2 separate regions of the Homo sapiens genome follow, and region 2 is linked to region 1. A link means that fine-mapping ties the variant in region 1 to the expression of a gene that starts in the linked region. Tissue or cell type: whole blood. Region 1 holds a variant in brackets; the other region holds the start of a gene. All regions are shown on one strand. Distances are between the middles of the regions.

Region 1 (8,174 bases):
CAGACCCCCCCACAGAGACCCAGAGACAAGCCGCCCCCACAGGGACCCAGAGACCAGAACCCCCCCACAGGGACCCAGAGACCAGCTGCCCCCACAGGTACCCAGAGACCAGACCCCCCCACAGGGACCCAGAGACCCCCCCCACCACAGGGACCCAGAGACCAGATCCCCCCACAGGGACCCAGAGACCAGACCCCCCCACAGGGACCCAGAGACCAGAACCTCTCACAGGGACCCAGAGACCAGTTGCCCCCACAGGGACCCAGAGACCAGAACCCCCCCACAGGGACCCAGAGACCAGACCCCCCAACAGGGACCCAGAGACCAGACCCGCCCACAGGGACCCAGAGACCAGCCGCCTCCACAGGGACCCAGAGACCAGACCCGCCCACAGGGACCCAGAGACCAGACCCCCCCACAGAGACCCAGAGACCAGCCGCCCCCACAGGGACCCAGAGACCAGAACCCCCCACAGGGACCCAGAGACCAGCCGCCCCCCCAGGGACCCAGAGACCAGAACCCCCACAGAGACCCAGAGACCAGACCCCCCAACAGGGACCCAGAGACCAGACCCCCCCACAGGGACCCAGAGATCAGCCGCCCCCACAGGGACCCAGAGACCAGAACCCCCCACAGGGACCCAGAGACCAGCCGCCCCCACAGGGACCCAGAGACCAGGACCCCCCCAAAGGGACCCAGAGACCAGACCCGCCCACAGGGACCCAGAGACCAGAACCCCTACAGGGACCCAGAGACCAGACCCCCCAACAGGGACCCAGAGACCCCCCCCACCACAGGGACCCAGAGACCAGACACCCCCACAGGGACCCAGAGACCAGAACCCCCCCACAGGGACCCAGAGACCAGACCCGCCTACAGGGACCCAGCGACCAGAACCCCTACAGGGACCCAGAGACCAGACCCCCCAACAGGGACCCAGAGACCCCCCCCACCACAGGGACCCAGAGACCAGACACCCCCACAGGGACCCAGAGACCAGCCGCCCCCACAGGGACCCAGAGACCCCCCCCCACCACAGGGACCCAGAGACCAGACCCCCCCCACAGGGACCCAGAGACCAGACCCCCCCAACAGACCCAGAGACCAGACCCGCCCACAGGGACCCAGAGACCAGAACCCCTACAGGGACCCAGAGACCAGCCGCCTCCACAGGGACCCAGAGACCAGACCCCCCCACAGAGACCCAGAGACAAGCCGCCCCCACAGGGACCCAGAGACCAGAACCCCCCCACAGGGACCCAGAGACCAGCTGCCCCCACAGGTACCCAGAGACCAGACCCCCCCACAGGGACCCAGAGACCCCCCCCACCACAGGGACCCAGAGACCAGACCCCCCCACAGGGACCCAGAGACCAGAAACCCCCACAGGGACCCAGAGACCAGCTGCCCCCACAGGGACCCAGAGACCAGAACCCCCCCACAGGGACCCAGAGACCAGACCCACCACAGGGACCCAGAGACCAGCCGCCCCCACAGGGACCCAGAGACCAGACCCCCCAACAGGGACCCAGAGACCCCCCCCACCACAGGGACCCAGAGACCAGCCGCCCCCACAGGGACCCAGAGACCAGACCCCCCAACAGGGACCCAGAGACCCCCCCCCCACCACAGGGACCCAGAGACCAGAACCCCCCCACAGGGACCCAGAGACCAGACCCGCCTACAGGGACCCAGCGACCAGAACCCCTACAGGGACCCAGAGACCAGACCCCCCAACAGGGACCCAGAGACCCCCCCCACCACAGGGACCCAGAGACCAGACACCCCCACAGGGACCCAGAGACCAGCCGCCCCCACAGGGACCCAGAGACCCCCCCCCACCACAGGGACCCAGAGACCAGACCCCCCCCACAGGGACCCAGAGACCAGACCCCCCCAACAGGGACCTGGAGACCAGCTCCCCTATGGTACCAGCCCAGGCTGTCTCACACCCAGGGACCCAGTGGCCCCGAATGAAGTCTGCCGTGTTTTAACAAGCATCATTGAACCATGTTTCCTTTAACACTGCTCACCTGCAGGCCATCGGCCCCACCCCACCGAGGCACTGAAGCCACAGGTGCTGCAGTGGATTCTTTACCCTGGCAGCTCAGCCCACGCCAGCGTCCCGCACTCCCTTGGAGGCAGAGACCCCGGAACTCATTTTAAACAGTGTTTACCAGGAGACACAGACCACAGATACACAGCCCACGTGACACAGGACCTAGTACTCAATTGAGACGACTCAGACCACGAGAACTCAGCCTCCCAAACACACAGAAGAACACACGGGCGCAGCTCCAGCCCACCACATGCAAACGCACCACCACCGCCGCCACCTGGGCACACGGAGGGTGAAATTTCAGCCCATACCAGTGGCACCAAGAAAGTAGCCCAGAAAATGTGTCCTCATCCTACAGCAGCACAGACTGCTACTGTCACCTCGAGTATTTTACCCAGCAACACAGCTCACTATGAATCCAATACGAGCATTAACCCTAACAGGGAGGCACTACGTGCCAGAGTTCCTCACTCCACGAAGACGTGGGCCACGAGTACTCTCCGAACCAGGGCAGAGACATGGGTACTAACCCAGGCTATCCCTCACCAGGGTACTCACTCCACTAGGACCTAGACCAAGGGTACTTTCTGGACCATGACAGAGACATGAGTACTAAACCAGCCAATCCCACACCAGGGGTATTCACCCCTCTAGGACCTGGACTTGGAGTAATCTCTGAGCCAGGGCGCAGACATGGGTACTCACCTGCTTTGTCCCTGGCCGATGTCAGCCCTGCACCACTCTGTGGCTTGTTCAGTGACCCTGTCTGGGAGAGGCTGGGGGGCGGCTGGCAGGGAGGGACTTGAGCTCTGGGTGCCTCTGCTGCCGGTTCTGACCTGCAGGCCTCCCTGAAGGGCTATGTTGGGTGTGGTTGGAGTTGTGAGTAGGGAGCAAGGTGTCTGTTGCGATTACAGGGGAAGTTGTTGATATTTATGTAGAAAAGAAGTAATTAGAGTGAGTTTAAGAGTGTCCTCTTAACAGTGGTTTTCCCAGTACCCACGTCCTGGGATGGGAGTGGGAAGGAAAGGCAGGCCCTGGCAACCCCAGTCATTTCCTGGGACACAGGACAGAGGTGTGAGGTCCAAGTCGGCGCCCACTTGGGCCTGAGCGGTGCTGCTTGTCCTCTGGAAGTCGGCCGCCTGCAGATCTGTGGCCGGGGGGATGCAGCCTGGGGTCTGGGGTCCTGAGTCCTTGCAGGACCGTCTGTGGGCAGCCACGTCTGTGCTCAGGCACTGGCCCTGCAGCCCCCAGGAGGCCTGGACAGCCAGTGTTGGGAGTTGCCCTGGTGGGCCCCAGCTCACCCAGCAGCCCTCCCTCCAGGCCCAGAGGAGCCAGCACGGCGGGCATGAAGGGCTTGTCTTGCTGCTGAGCCCACTTGCAGCCTGACCTGTCTCACTGGGAGACACTGATCTTCTAGCTGTGGCCCGAGGGACAGGCCTCTCACGTGTGCCAGGCCCTCCTATGCCCCTCCTGCTCCGCCTGCCCTGAACAACCACAGCACTCAGATGCCTGCTCAGACTTGGCCCCAGGGACCCTCCGAATTGGCTTCTCTGTCCCTGTGCCCAGTAGCCTCCCCAGATGCCCACCAGGCCCCGCCTCCACCCCACCGTTGACCTGGCCTCACAGCACTTTGTCTGTCCTCACGGGGTGCTCACCCTTTCCCTCCCCCTACCCCGTCCCCTGCCTCCCTGGGCACACGCTGCCCCTGCAGACACAGGGCCGGCCTCCATCTGCCCAAGGTACCCCCACCCCACCCACCTCAAAGGCTACAGAACAGTCCTTGGTCTTGAATACAACAGGCAGAATTTCTG[G/C]CCGAAGGTGCCTGTGCAGTAAAGGCTCTGCAGAAGCCTCTAGGCTCAGGTACAAACCCTGGCAGTGCAGTGGAAGGGAAGCGTGATGAAGTGAGACACAGAGGAGCAGGATCCACGTGAGACACGGAGGAGCAGGGTCCACGTGAGACACGGAGGAGCAGGGTCCACGTGAGACACGGAGGAGCAGGGTCCACGTGAGACGTGGAGGAGCAGGGTCCACAGTCCCCGCACAGTGAACACACCCACTGTTCCAGCTCAGGCCAATGCTGGTCCCGACAGCGTCCCCCGAGAAATGCAAGCACCAAGGGTCAGGGAGCAAGTGGCAGGACCGGTCAGGCACCATCTGGGCACTGGGTAGGTGTGGAAGTGCCCGTTGCAGCCAGTCTCTGCACATGGGGGGCATTCACCACATCAGTGCAGGGCCCTGAGCTCCTTCCAGGGTCCCTAGACAGGCTTCCTGCAGCTGCTGTCACTGATGGGCGACACTGCAGCCTAGCGTGTGGCTGCTGAGCTGCCTTCTGCCAAGGCCCTCCCAGGGGCCCAGTGCTCCCATTCAGCCTGCATCCCTCCTCAGTCCTGCTCAGGCAGGTGGAACGTGCGGGCCCCAACCCAGCCCCTTCCCCGCAGAACCAGTGGGGGCTCCTCAGCTGCCCAAAGCCCCTGCAGGGGTGGCTCATTCAGAGACAGAGCAGGCCGACCAGATCTGAGCCCTGTCTGGGGCCTTCGTGGGCGACGCGGCAGATGCCACTGTGTGTCTCCCAGGACTGGAGGCCTCCTCAGCTAGGACTGCTCCAGAGAAGAACTGTCAGGGTCTGGAGGCACAGGCAGCTTCTGCTTCCTAGTCCTTTAAGCTGACTAAAGTCACCACAGTGTTGCCGTGTGGTAGTTACACACCCGCACGGAGACAGGGCGGAGGGGCCGCCTCACAGTGTTCCTCCAAAGAGCATGCACACACATGCACACTTACCCTCAAGCACACGTGCATGTGTGCACACAACTCCCACAGAGGGACCTACACACCACACAGGCGCACACTCTCACACACTAACACGTCAACACCCACACAACCCACAAGCCACTCACAAACACACAGGCACACAGGCAAGCACACTCACACAGGCCAGCATACACGCACACTCCATCGCATCCGACACGCAGGCACACGGACTCACACACACACAGGCACACAGGCACACTCGCACAGGCCAGCATGCACGCACACTCCATTGCATCCGACACACAGGCACACGGGCAAGCACGCTCACACAGGCCGGCATGCACGCACGCTCCATTGCATCCGACACGCAGGCACACGGGCACACTCGCACAGGCCGGCATACACCCACGCTCCAGTGCGTCTGACACGCAGGCACACGGGCAAGCACACTCACACAGGCCGGCATGCACCCACGCTCCATTGCATCCAACACGCAGGCACAGGGGCACACTCGCACAGGCCGGCATGCACCCACGCTCCAGCACGTCTGACACGGAGGCACACAGGCAAGCACACTCACACAGGCTGGCATGCACCCACGCTCCGTTGCATCCGACATGCAGACACACGGGCACACACAAGGAAGGAAGTGGCACGAAAGTCAGGTGCGGAACGCAGGGTCTGGCTCTGGCTTCATGGTCTGGTGGAAGCTGACTCCGAGCCAGGAGCCCCTCAGGGTGGTTGGGCTGTGGATGTTTATGCTCCAAAACGTTACGTGCAATTGGATATGGCCCAACACCAGTCCCAAGTGGACTCATGAGGCTAAGTCAGTATAGAAACACACAGAGGTTTAATGTTCAATGTTGACTTTCTTTGGTTGAATGGTGGGACGCCTCTCTGCTCAGCCGGGGGCACTGAGGGTGGAAAGTTCATGAGGGGCTGCAGGGGCCAGGGAGAGCAGCCCTGCCCCAGGATCCAGGACACAGACGGGGGCCACACATTCAGGTGCCCCTCTACCCCATCGAGGGTGAGAAAAACACACGGGGATGCTATTAACCAGCCTCACAAAGAACAAACAATGCCAAGACTGTATTTTTGTGTGGACGGTTCTGCACCTACAGTGCGTACACAGCACAGCGTGGGGATTCGGGTTCACATCAGCTATGGAAGCAGGTGAGAAGGTGAGGCAGAGGCAGAGCCACCTGGTGGTCCTCCGACGGCCCGTCTGGTCGACCTGTAAGGACACACGGGGTTTGCTGGGAGGAGCACGCTGTGGGTTACTGAGTCACGGTCAAGTTTACCGACACCCCGGGAAGTGAGGCTCCTCATACTCAGATACTGAGTGCCAGTCTCCGGAGAGCCCTTCCACCGAGCAGGTGCTGGGAACACTCCCCGACACCCCTCTTCTCGGAGGTGCACGTTAGGGAGGCTCTGCTCCTGGTGAGACCTCCCAACCGGATAGCACAGCGCACCGACGAGTCTGCTGACGTTGACGTTTGCAGGGTGAAACAATCTCCAATGCAAACCCAGTGTGTGGGTGGCTGGAAAACACACTACTACGTGTGTGTGCACATGTGCACAGCAGGTGCAAGTGTGTGTTAAGTATGTGTGCACGTGTGTTTGTGTGTGATATGCACGTGTTTGTGTGTGTGCGTGTGTGTGATATGCACGTGTTTGGGTGTGTGTGCGTGTGTGTGATATGCACGTTTGTGTGCATGTGTGTGATATGCACGTGTTTGTGTGTGTGCATGTGTGTGATATGCACGTGTTTGGGTGTGTGCGCGTGTGTGATATGCACATGTGTTTGTGTGTGTGCATGTGTGTGATATGCACATGTGTTTGTGTGTGTGTGTGTGGGTGCACATGTGTCACAGACAAGGAGGAAGAGGGAGGGAGGGAAAGCTGTGCACAGTTTCACACCCATGACCCTCTGGACTCCCTCCCACCTAGGGACGGGCCACTTGCTTTCACAGAAGTCTTGCTGTCATCCACATCTGTCCTTTGAGTCAGGGCTTGGTACCCAGATGTTCATGGAGACGAGAAAAAGGGAAAGGGATTTTGTCCATGAGAATCTCCCGTCTGTCAGCCCCTTTTCTTTTTGGAATAAACCTTCGTGTTGCTAAGTGCCTATACTGGAGTGGAATCCAGTCCCAGCGGTGGCTGGTTTTGGAAGTCGAGTCTTCACTAAAGGATGTCTGGGCATTTTCCCAAGCCTTGGGCCCGTGAAAGCCCCCCATTGGCCCTCTGAGGCTGACAGCCATCCCCAAAGTCCAGAGCAGCCCCCAGCATCTGTGGTGCTCTCAGCCCTGCAGGGCTGGGGCTACGACAAGGACAGGGCTGACAGGGCACACTGAGTGGGCAGAGGTGTGCAGGGGCCCTGTGAAGCTGCAGGGGTGGCTCAGACACACGACAGCGGAGGGTCCCGAGGGTTCTGCCCAGAGCGAGAATGCTGGGGACAGACCTGCCGCCGCCACCCCCGGAGTAGAACGCAAGACACACACATTGAACACTGGGAAAGGTCAGGGCAGCCCCCTCCTGCGATCTCGGCCCTGCCCGGCCACACCAGGGGAAGCCAGGACTCCGTGGGCAGCAGGGCATCTCGGGCAGGGCCATGCTGGGGTCTCAGTGGGTCCTTTGATGGAATCCCCTGCTCTGCCTCTAGGGTGCCCCAGGACTGGAGACCACAGGACAGAAACCGGATGACCGTGTGCGGGACCAGCACGCGGAATTGGGATAAGGGGAGTGGGCGTGGCCCGGAGCGTTTCCCCGCTGAGGTCTTTCACAAGGAAGGGGCAGGGGTGTGATCACAAGGAAGGGGCAGGGGTGTGATCACAAGGAAGGGGCAGGGGTGTGATCACAAGGAAGGGGCAGGGGTGTGAACGGCTTCTGAAAGGCGGGGTCACTTCGGTACCCCCAGTGACCTCATGTGGCAGATGGGCCCCCCACTCTGCTCTGAAGCTCCTCCAGGAACACCGTGTCCTCTGCCCCCATCTACACAGTAGTTTCGTTTTTCCAGGGTCCCGTTCGGATGTTGCCGGTCCCGTCGGTGCCAAACGGCAGGCCTTCTAGCAATTTACCCTTGGGCAGCCCGTTCTGGCTGGGGCCACCAAAGGGCAGGGACTGTGTCCTCCGCAGCATCTCCAAGTGGCCGGGCCCGAGCGCTGCCTCCCTGCCCGGCTGCGTGGGGCAGCTGTAGAGGGCAGGGCTCCCATCACTGCCCTCGGGCTGGGTGACCATGGGGAAGGGGTCGCCCTGGGTGCAGCAGGCCAGCGTGTGTGTCCCCGCCGGGCCATCCAGAGAGCTGGGGGGGCTGTCTGTGCGCGAGCTGCGGGGGCTGCCATCCAGGCTGGATGGGATGTGGTAGGCG
Region 2 (8,174 bases), 26 kb before region 1:
TCATCCTGGCACAGATGTCATATGGACCCTGCAGCGGGGACGTCCTCTTCTTTACTGGGAGCCCCCAGCTGTGTGCCCCTCCAGGGAGCAACTGCATCCTGTCCAGCCTCAGATTCTGAGCCCAGCCTGACACCGGCACACAGGAGGTTCTGGGAGGCAGTTGCTGAACTCTGGGAGGGATGATAGTGCTGCCTGCCTCTCAGGGACCCGGGACACGTCCTGCTCTGGCACCCAAACCGGTGCACCCTCTTCGTCTCATCTGAATTCCCATGGGGCAGCCAGCATTGCCCATCCATCGACTCCAGCCGCCTGGACTGTGTGCCTCTTCTGCAGCCGCTGTTCTGCCTGGATTGCACTGTTCTGCCTCAGATCCCATACCCCCATCCACAGTGACTGAAATCTCATGGGAATCCCGGGCAGGACACCTCCAGGAAGCCCTCCTTGCATCACCCCCACAGAACATCTCCCTGTCTATCGTGTACTGGTGGTTCTTTGCCTGTACTGGGATCCAACCTGGTCACTTCCTCCAGGACCTGCTGGCCCACTTGCTGATGCTCTGGTAGGTTCCAGCTGAGAGTGTTCTCACACACGCACGGCCACGTGTCTCTGGGGCCCACACCATAGTGAAGTTGCTGGGACACAGGGCACTGGTGCCTTCTACTTCACCAGCGAATGCTGGGCTGTTTTCCAAAGAGGCTGCTCCATTTGTCCTCCCACTGGCGCGAGGGAGAGCTGCTGCGCCGTCCTTGCCAGCACAAGCCGCTGTCCGCTCTTCAGTTCTTGCCAGCCTGGCGGTCTTGGGAAGGCATTCGTGGGGGTGTATTTTGCATTTTCCTGATTGCAATGAGCAAACATCTTTTCACATGTTCAGCAGCCATTTGGATTTTCTTTGGGACCATGTCAAGGGAGGGACATTCCAGGGGCTCCGGTGGGTGTCCATAGGGGTCTATTTCTTGACCCCATCATGGAGCCAGCCATTATAATTAGCTGTAGAATGAGTGAGTTCCTACATCTTATGAAGCCTGCATATGTCCTGGGCCTGGCGCCACCGTGCTTTCCCGGCAGCTGCCCTGCACCCTTGGCCTTCCGGCATTCTGGGATGATGATGCAACCTCACCGTGCCCTCACCTCACCCAGGACGGTTTTCCCATGCAAGTCAGGTGCCCCGATGGAGATTTCAGAACCTTCCAAGCCAAACACGTGTGGGAAGCAGAGTCTGAACGCCAGGGGAATTCTGAGACATGGGGTGTGTTGGGCTCAGTACTGGGCACAGGGTTGGGCCAGGGACCACCCGATGCTTTCCAGGAGTGTCTGCGAAGGGCCCACCTGAACGTTCCCACTGCACGCTGCAAACTCGGTGGGATGACAGTTCACCTGGAGGCCTTGGTGGACGTCACAGGATGGAGCCACCCACCCCAGTACTGTGCCGGCCGGGAGCTGTCCGGCCGGCCCGAGGACACTGGTGTGTGCGTGGGGGTGGGGAGCGGGAGTGGGGAGTGTGCAGAAAGACAGCCTGTGGCTCCAAGTGGGCTCGCGCCTGGCGCGGCGTGTTGTGTGCGTGGCACCGGCTGCTGCCTCCGTGTGCGGAGCGGGGAGGCCCTCAAGGCTCAGGCCTCTGATGCACGAAGGAGCTGTGGGAAGAGCTGCGTCCTCAGGGCCGCCTCCTAACAGATACCCTGGGATGTGTCCTGGGGCGTTTCTGAAGGCTGCGGGCTGCCCCTCCCTCTCGGTCAGAGCCGAGGTGATCTTGGAAGCTTTATTGCCTCCCCTGGCTGCTCCTCTCTGCAGCCTTCAACTGCACCGAATCCAGGCCATGGTGGGGGCGGGGGCATCGCCAACCCCCGCACAGCCTCAGCTGTTTCTAGGTGGCTGGGCCGAGGGCCTCCTGGGGCTGAACCTTCCCAGAAGGACGGTGCTTCCACAGCAGAAACTCCCGGTCCCTTCAGAGCCCACTCCCCTGGGGCAGCAGGTGGGGACTGCGAGGGGGTCAGGCCCGCGGCTGCTGCAGCCGGGATTCCCTGCTCCAGGCTTACTTGGCCGGCTTTAAAGAGAGGGCGCCACAACATCCCACTAATGGCTGCAGGTGACGACGCTGTCACCCGGAGACGCAGGCGCCCAGCGTCTGGGCTCTTGCCTGTTGGAGGTTTGGCAGATCTCGGATCCCTGGAGGGTGAGGGTCCCTCTGGGAGCTGCTGTATCCCCTGGGGGCCACCTCTCATGCTTCCGGGCCTGGCTTGTCCACTCCATCCCAGCCAAGCCAGAGCTGAGCTACAGGGTCAGACCCAGCCAAGGTGGCGTCTGGGCAGCCGGTGCTGTAGGGTGGGCGGTCCATGAGCAGAAGCGCCAGGGTATGCAGATGGCAGGCAGAGCCCCTCTGCACCTTGCGGGGTAGGGGGGTCTTGGGTGAAGGCCCGGAAAACCAGAGAGCAGGAAGCAGCTCTCAGTCTCGGGGGGCAGTCATCCAGCGCTCCCCCCACCCCCCGCTCCTGAACCTCAGCTCCGGGGACCTCATCCCCCAGCTCCTGAGCGGCGCCTGATTGGACTCTGCTGCTCTGCACCCCGCTGGCCTCCTGGGGCCCGGCAGGGAGTAAGCAGACCCCCCTCCGTCCTCCTTGCTGCCCCCACACTGTCCCGCCAGGGTTTCCACCAGGAGCTACCGCGCACCAACTTCTGCAGGGGCTGCCCACCCGCCGCCGTCCCGTGCGCATTCGGGGGTGCTGTCCCCTCCGGGTGAAAATCCTAACGCGGGGGCTGAGAACGGCGGTGGGAACCCCTCGGCCATGGAGGGCGCCTGGGGAGGCGGGAGCTCACAGCCCCTCCCGGGTCCTCCCCCCGGGCGCTCTCCGCGGACCCCTCGGCGGCGGAAGGGGCCCCCCAGTGGGGCCGGGGGCTCACCTCGTCCTCGGGGAGGGTGGGCAGCGGCTCGAAGTCGTAGAAGTCCAGGTCTTTGCCGTCCTCCTCGTAAAGATCCGCCGCGGCCGGGTCCATGGCCTGCATCCTGCGGCCGCGCCGCGCACCGCCCCCGGGGCCTCCGGCTGGGCTGGGCTGGGCTCGGCTACGCGCGCCCTGGCTCCATGGAGACGCGCCCGGCCCTCGCCCGCCCCCGCCCGCCCGCCGCTGCCGCAGTGTCTCCAGGGGACGCGGTCAGGGATACGGGGCGGGCCCGGGGGGCGCGGGGGGCGCGGGGTGCGCGGGGGCTGCGCGGCGCTGTCCGGACCCGGCGCCTAGGGAACGTCGCTCCTTCCTGGGGGAGGCACCGGGGGCGGAGCCAGGCGTGTGGCCTCCGCGGGGAGCCACGGGGTCTGCGCCCCACCTGGGCCCCAAGGGTCGAGGGGCGGAGCCGGCGCCCAGGAAAGCTCGGACGGGCAGACCCCCTCGCCGGCTCCCGCCGCCCCCGTCCCACCCCCGCTGCTGCCGGGCGGGGCTGCCGCAGTCCCGGGGTGGCCTCTGCAGCGGCGTTGGGCAGGGCCGGGCGGGGCCCGGGGTGGGGGGCGGGGCCCGGGGTGGGGGGCGGGGCGGTCGCTGGGCCGGGGTCTCTCCTGAGCGAGGGTCTTTCGGAGGCCCGGGGATGTTGGGGGTGGGGCAATAACGCTGCCTCATCCCCACCTGGAGGCATCGGAGAGACCCACTGGGCACCCGACCCTCCCCGGTCCTGGGGGACCCTGGGGGGTCCTGGGGCTCTTGACCTCTTCCTGCCCCAAAGGCCCCCCGGGGCTTTCTTCAGCGCCAGGGTGACCCCGGCCCACGGTAGTGCCGCGGTCAGAAGAGCCAGGATAGCCCCAAGCTCGGCCAAGAGGCAGGGAGGGTGGAGGAGAATCTCACCTTCCCCGGCCACCCCCAGAACTCCCACAGGAGAGAGGGCGGCTTCAGGGCCCGGCTGTCAGCTCCCCGTCCGTGTGGCTGGCCAGGCACACAGTAGGTACTTAATCCATGCTCCTGGCTTGAAGGAGCAGCAGGGCTTTTGACCGCAGAGTGGGAGGGTGCAGTGTGTTCAGGGACGTGAATTCCCAGCACTCTGTCCCCTGGTCGGTCACCCGGGCTGTCACTCTGGCCTGGCAGGGAGTTCAGGGGCTCAGCTCCCCGGGAGCCAGGTGGGCACTGAAGCCGGAGGCTGGGAGTGGGGCAGGTGCTGGGCAGACTCCCTGCGTCCAGCCAGGCAGCCCCACCTTATTGAAAATGCCCACCCTGGGGCCCACCCTGGTCCACCGAGTCAGCAGTCAGGTGCAGCCTCCCCCATCCTTGGGTGTTTGGAAGCTTGGGCAGCAAGCCAAGGTGGAGTGGGCTGGAGCTGGAGAGGAGGAGTCTCACAGAGGGTGGCCTCAGCCAGCTGTCCCTGAGCTCTCTCTCTGTGGGCCCCACAGGGCCTGCAGCGCCCCAGTCCCTGTCTTGGAAGGAGGCGGAAGTGGCAGGCAGACTCTGCTCCAGGAGCCTGATCCCGCTGCACCCTGGTGCTCAGACCTGGACATTGGAGCTGAGCCCCTGGGCTCCTGGGCCCTCTGCTGCAGGGCTGGGGCCGCCTCCTTTGTCAGGTCTGGATGTGCCCCTGACGCCTCTCAGCTGCCACCCAGACTTGTGCCTCCGGGGGAACGCCGGGCTGACGTGACCCCAAAGGGAAGGCACCAGGGACCCCACAAGCACAGGACTTTGTCACCGAGTGCCCAGGTCACCTCACGGGCTTGGGGTGAGGATATAGACACTGAATAGGGGGCAAAGGTAACCCCATAATTTGGGGGGCAGCCATAGGGCAAGCACTCCTGGAAAGACGTGCATGCGGTTGGTAAAATGCAGAACTCACAGGCTCCTGGAGTCGGCCGTGTCAGCTTCGGCTGTTGCGGCCTAAAACCCCTCAGCAGGCATTTCCCACACCTGGGTCACTCAGCGCTGCTGCTGCTCAGGGCTGGGCACGTGGGGAGGGGCCTCGGGCAGGGGCCGCAGGCTCTTTCTTTTACGCACCTGCTGCTTTCCTTTAAAGATTTGTGGGCTTTGGTCTCTGTTGTTCTGGGGAGTGGTGGGAACTTCCAGACGTTTTGCGAGTTGTCCCGGGCGCCCGCACACTCGCCTGCAGTGATAAAGCTTTGACCCAAGTGGAGGGTGCGATGTCGGTCCTGTGTCCTGGCACCTCAGTTATGCTGGACGAGGGCGCAGTTCCTCCAGGGTCTGGATTCATCGCCCCACGTCTTCTAGAGCTGGTGAGCAGCTTCTGGGTGCCACGCGGAAACGGCCAAGAGCCCTCCGTGAGCCACAAGGAACGGCCTCCTCATCAAGCCCTCCTGCCTCTCGGTGCCAGCCCTGTGTGCCCAGCATGTGCTGGCACAGCTTCCTCCCGAGGATGCTTGTGGTGGTGTCGGAATTCTGAGGGGCTTCCCAGCTGCACGATCAGGTCCGTGGTCCAGGGCCATGACTTGGTGGCACTTTCGTCCTCTTCCAACTCTTCCATGGCCTCTACCCATCCTCTGCCCCACCCCACTGCCCTTTCCCACCAGACGTTCCCCTCTGCTAGAGGCAACAGCCTGAACTGTGGCTCCTGGCTGGAGTGAGGAACCTGGTTCCTCCCTCCCTGCCCAGGCCCTGCCCACCCTCCCTCCTCCATGAGGGGCCCAGGGTAGGACTCCCAGATGCTTCTCCTGAGACCTTGCTCCGAGGGGGTTACCGGGCCCTTGTCACACCCGGACGCTGTCAGGATCGGCCTTGTCCTTCTCACTCGGTCTCCCACAGTCGGCGCTCAGCTGGACTGGGCTGCGTGCTGAGGCGGGTGGAGCAGGGGTCTTCAGGGCCTTGGCTCTCGTTTTCCCTAAAACAATTTTGAAAAGCTGCCAAATCACTCACACATGTTGACGTCAACATCCAGGTTTCTTAAAAAATCCAGACATGTAAATGATGGCAAATAATGTCATTTCTGGTGTGATGTAAATACTCACATTTTGAAGTAAAATTGTTAGTCACTCCTGTAAATGTATCTAGGAAGCTAAATGCCAAAATGGTTTTGATACCTACTGTCAGTCGTTTAAAGAATTCGTAAACACATTCTTCTCTAACAGTCCGAGATCTTCGTGCTGACATTTTTCCTCAGACGCATCATAGCCATCTGGTTTTTGCCCAGATTGTATCTGACGATGAATTATTTTTATGCCCGAGTTTCTGTTGGCTCCTCATCACACTTTGCAACAAATACACATGTAAATTTTAATAAATCAGATATTTAGTAAAGAAAAAAAGGAAATGTGGAAGTAAATGGCGGTGCTCCTGTTAGAGATTGGGAGCCGGCACGCGGGAACCGTGGACCACGACTGGCTTCTGCGGGGAGCTGCCCTGTGGCTCTGGCGGAAACACGGTCTCCTCACTTTGTCTCTGGGCGCTGGGCTGGCCCTGTCCTGCCAGGCTCACCCCACGGGGGAACCAATGCGGCTGGGAGCAGACGGAACCCCCGTCCCTCTGTGCGTGTGTGTATTTGTGTGTATATGTGTGCGTATGTGTGGGTATTTCTGTGTCTGTATGTGTATGTGTATTTGTGTGGATGTGTGTGTATATTTGTGTGTGTATGTGTGTATGTGTATTTGTGTGTGTATTTGTGTATGTGTGTGTATTTCTGTGTCTGTGTGTATGTGTATGTGTATTTGTGTGTATGTGTGTGTATTTGTGTGTATGTGTGTGTATTTGTGTATTTGTGTGTATTTGTGTATGTGTGTGTATTTGTGTGTGTATTCGTGTGTGTGTATTTGTGTATGTGTGTGTATTTGTGTCTATGTGTGTGTATTTGTGTGTGTGTTTATTTGTGTGTGTGTATGTGTGTGTGTATTTGTGTGTGTGTGCGTGCATTTTTCCTCAGTGTCTCTGAGATTCAACCATGTTGTTATGGGTAGTAGTAATTTATTGATTATTGTTACTGAATTGTATTAAATTACATCAATACCCCACAGTGGAGGTTCTCTTTCCAACGACGTCAATACCCCACAGTGGAGATTCTCTTTCCAACGACGTCAATACGCCACAGTGGAGGTTCTCTTTCCAATGACGTCAATACCCCACAGTGGAGGTTCTCTTTCCAATGACGTCAATACCCCACAGTGGAGGTTCTCTTTCCAACGACATCAATACCCCACAGTTGAGGTTCTCTTTCCAATTACGTCAATACCCCACAGTGGAGGTTCTCTTTCCAACGACATCAATACCCCACAGTTGAGGTTCTCTTTCCAACGACGTCAATACCCCACAGTTGAGGTTCTCTTTCCAACGACGTCAATACCCCACAGTTGAGGTTCTCTTTCCAATGATGGCAATACTCCACAGTTGAGGTTCTCTTTCCAATGACATCAATACTCCACAGTTGAGGCTCTCTTTCCAATGACGTCAATACCCCACAATTGAGGTTCTCTTTCCAACGACGTCAATACCCCACAGTGGAGGTTCTCTTTCCAACGACGTCAATACCCCACAGTGGAGGTTCTCTTTCCAACGACGTCAATACCCCACAGTGGAGGTTCTCTTTCCAACGACGTCAATACCCCACAGTGGAGGTTCTCTTTCCAACGACGTCAATACCCCACAGTGGAGGTTCTCTTTCCAACGACGTCAATACCCCACAGTGGAGGTTCTCTTTCCAACGACGTCAATACCCCACAGTGGAGGTTCTCTTTCCAACGACGTCAATACCCCACAGTGGAGGTTCTCTTTCCAACGACGTCAATACCCCACAGTGGAGGTTCTCTTTCCAACGACGTCAATACCCCACAGTGGAGGTTCTCTTTCCAACGACGTCAATACCCCACAGTGGAGGTTCTCTTTCCAACGACGTCAATACCCCACAGTTGAGGTTCTCTTTCAAATGACGTCAATACCCCACAGTTGAGGTTCTCTTTCCAATGACGTCAATACTCCACAGTTGAGGCTCTCTTTCCAATGACGTCAATACCCCACAGTTGAGGTTCTCTTTCCAACGACGTCAATACCCCACAGTGGAGGTTCTCTTTCTGCGCTGGTGGGCACTCAGGTGGCTTCTACAATTTGCAGCCTTAGGAACGAAGCTACGGGGGCATCTTTTCTTCAGGTGCCTGTGTTTCTGTTTGGCCTATCTTTAGAGTGGAGTTGCCGGGTCTTAGGTTATGCATGTATGAAGTTCCTGTTTTCCCCGCACTGGCGATGGCCGGGCACGGGGGCGGGTGTTGGGAAGGTGCCCT

The links. PIP is the estimated chance that this variant, and not a neighbour inherited with it, causes the effect.
Region 2: it holds the start of KNDC1, and the variant in region 1 is fine-mapped to the expression of KNDC1 in whole blood (INTERVAL, PIP above 0.99).

What each region holds. Positions count from the first base shown.
Region 1 is chr10:133,129,136-133,137,309 of GRCh38, reverse strand. ADGRA1 (adhesion G protein-coupled receptor A1) reads right to left here. Exons shown (of 7, transcript NM_001083909.3): 7 at 5,635-8,174. The coding sequence ends at 7,799. Among named protein-coding and RNA genes, the nearest start is that of KNDC1, 27 kb to the left of the region's middle. The variant G/C (reference allele first, on the strand shown) is at 3,871.
Region 2 is chr10:133,155,291-133,163,464 of GRCh38, reverse strand. KNDC1 (kinase non-catalytic C-lobe domain containing 1) reads right to left here and starts at 3,246. Exons shown (of 30, transcript NM_152643.8): 1 at 2,896-3,246. The coding sequence starts at 2,997. RefSeq lists enhancers at 1,695-2,285, 2,286-2,875.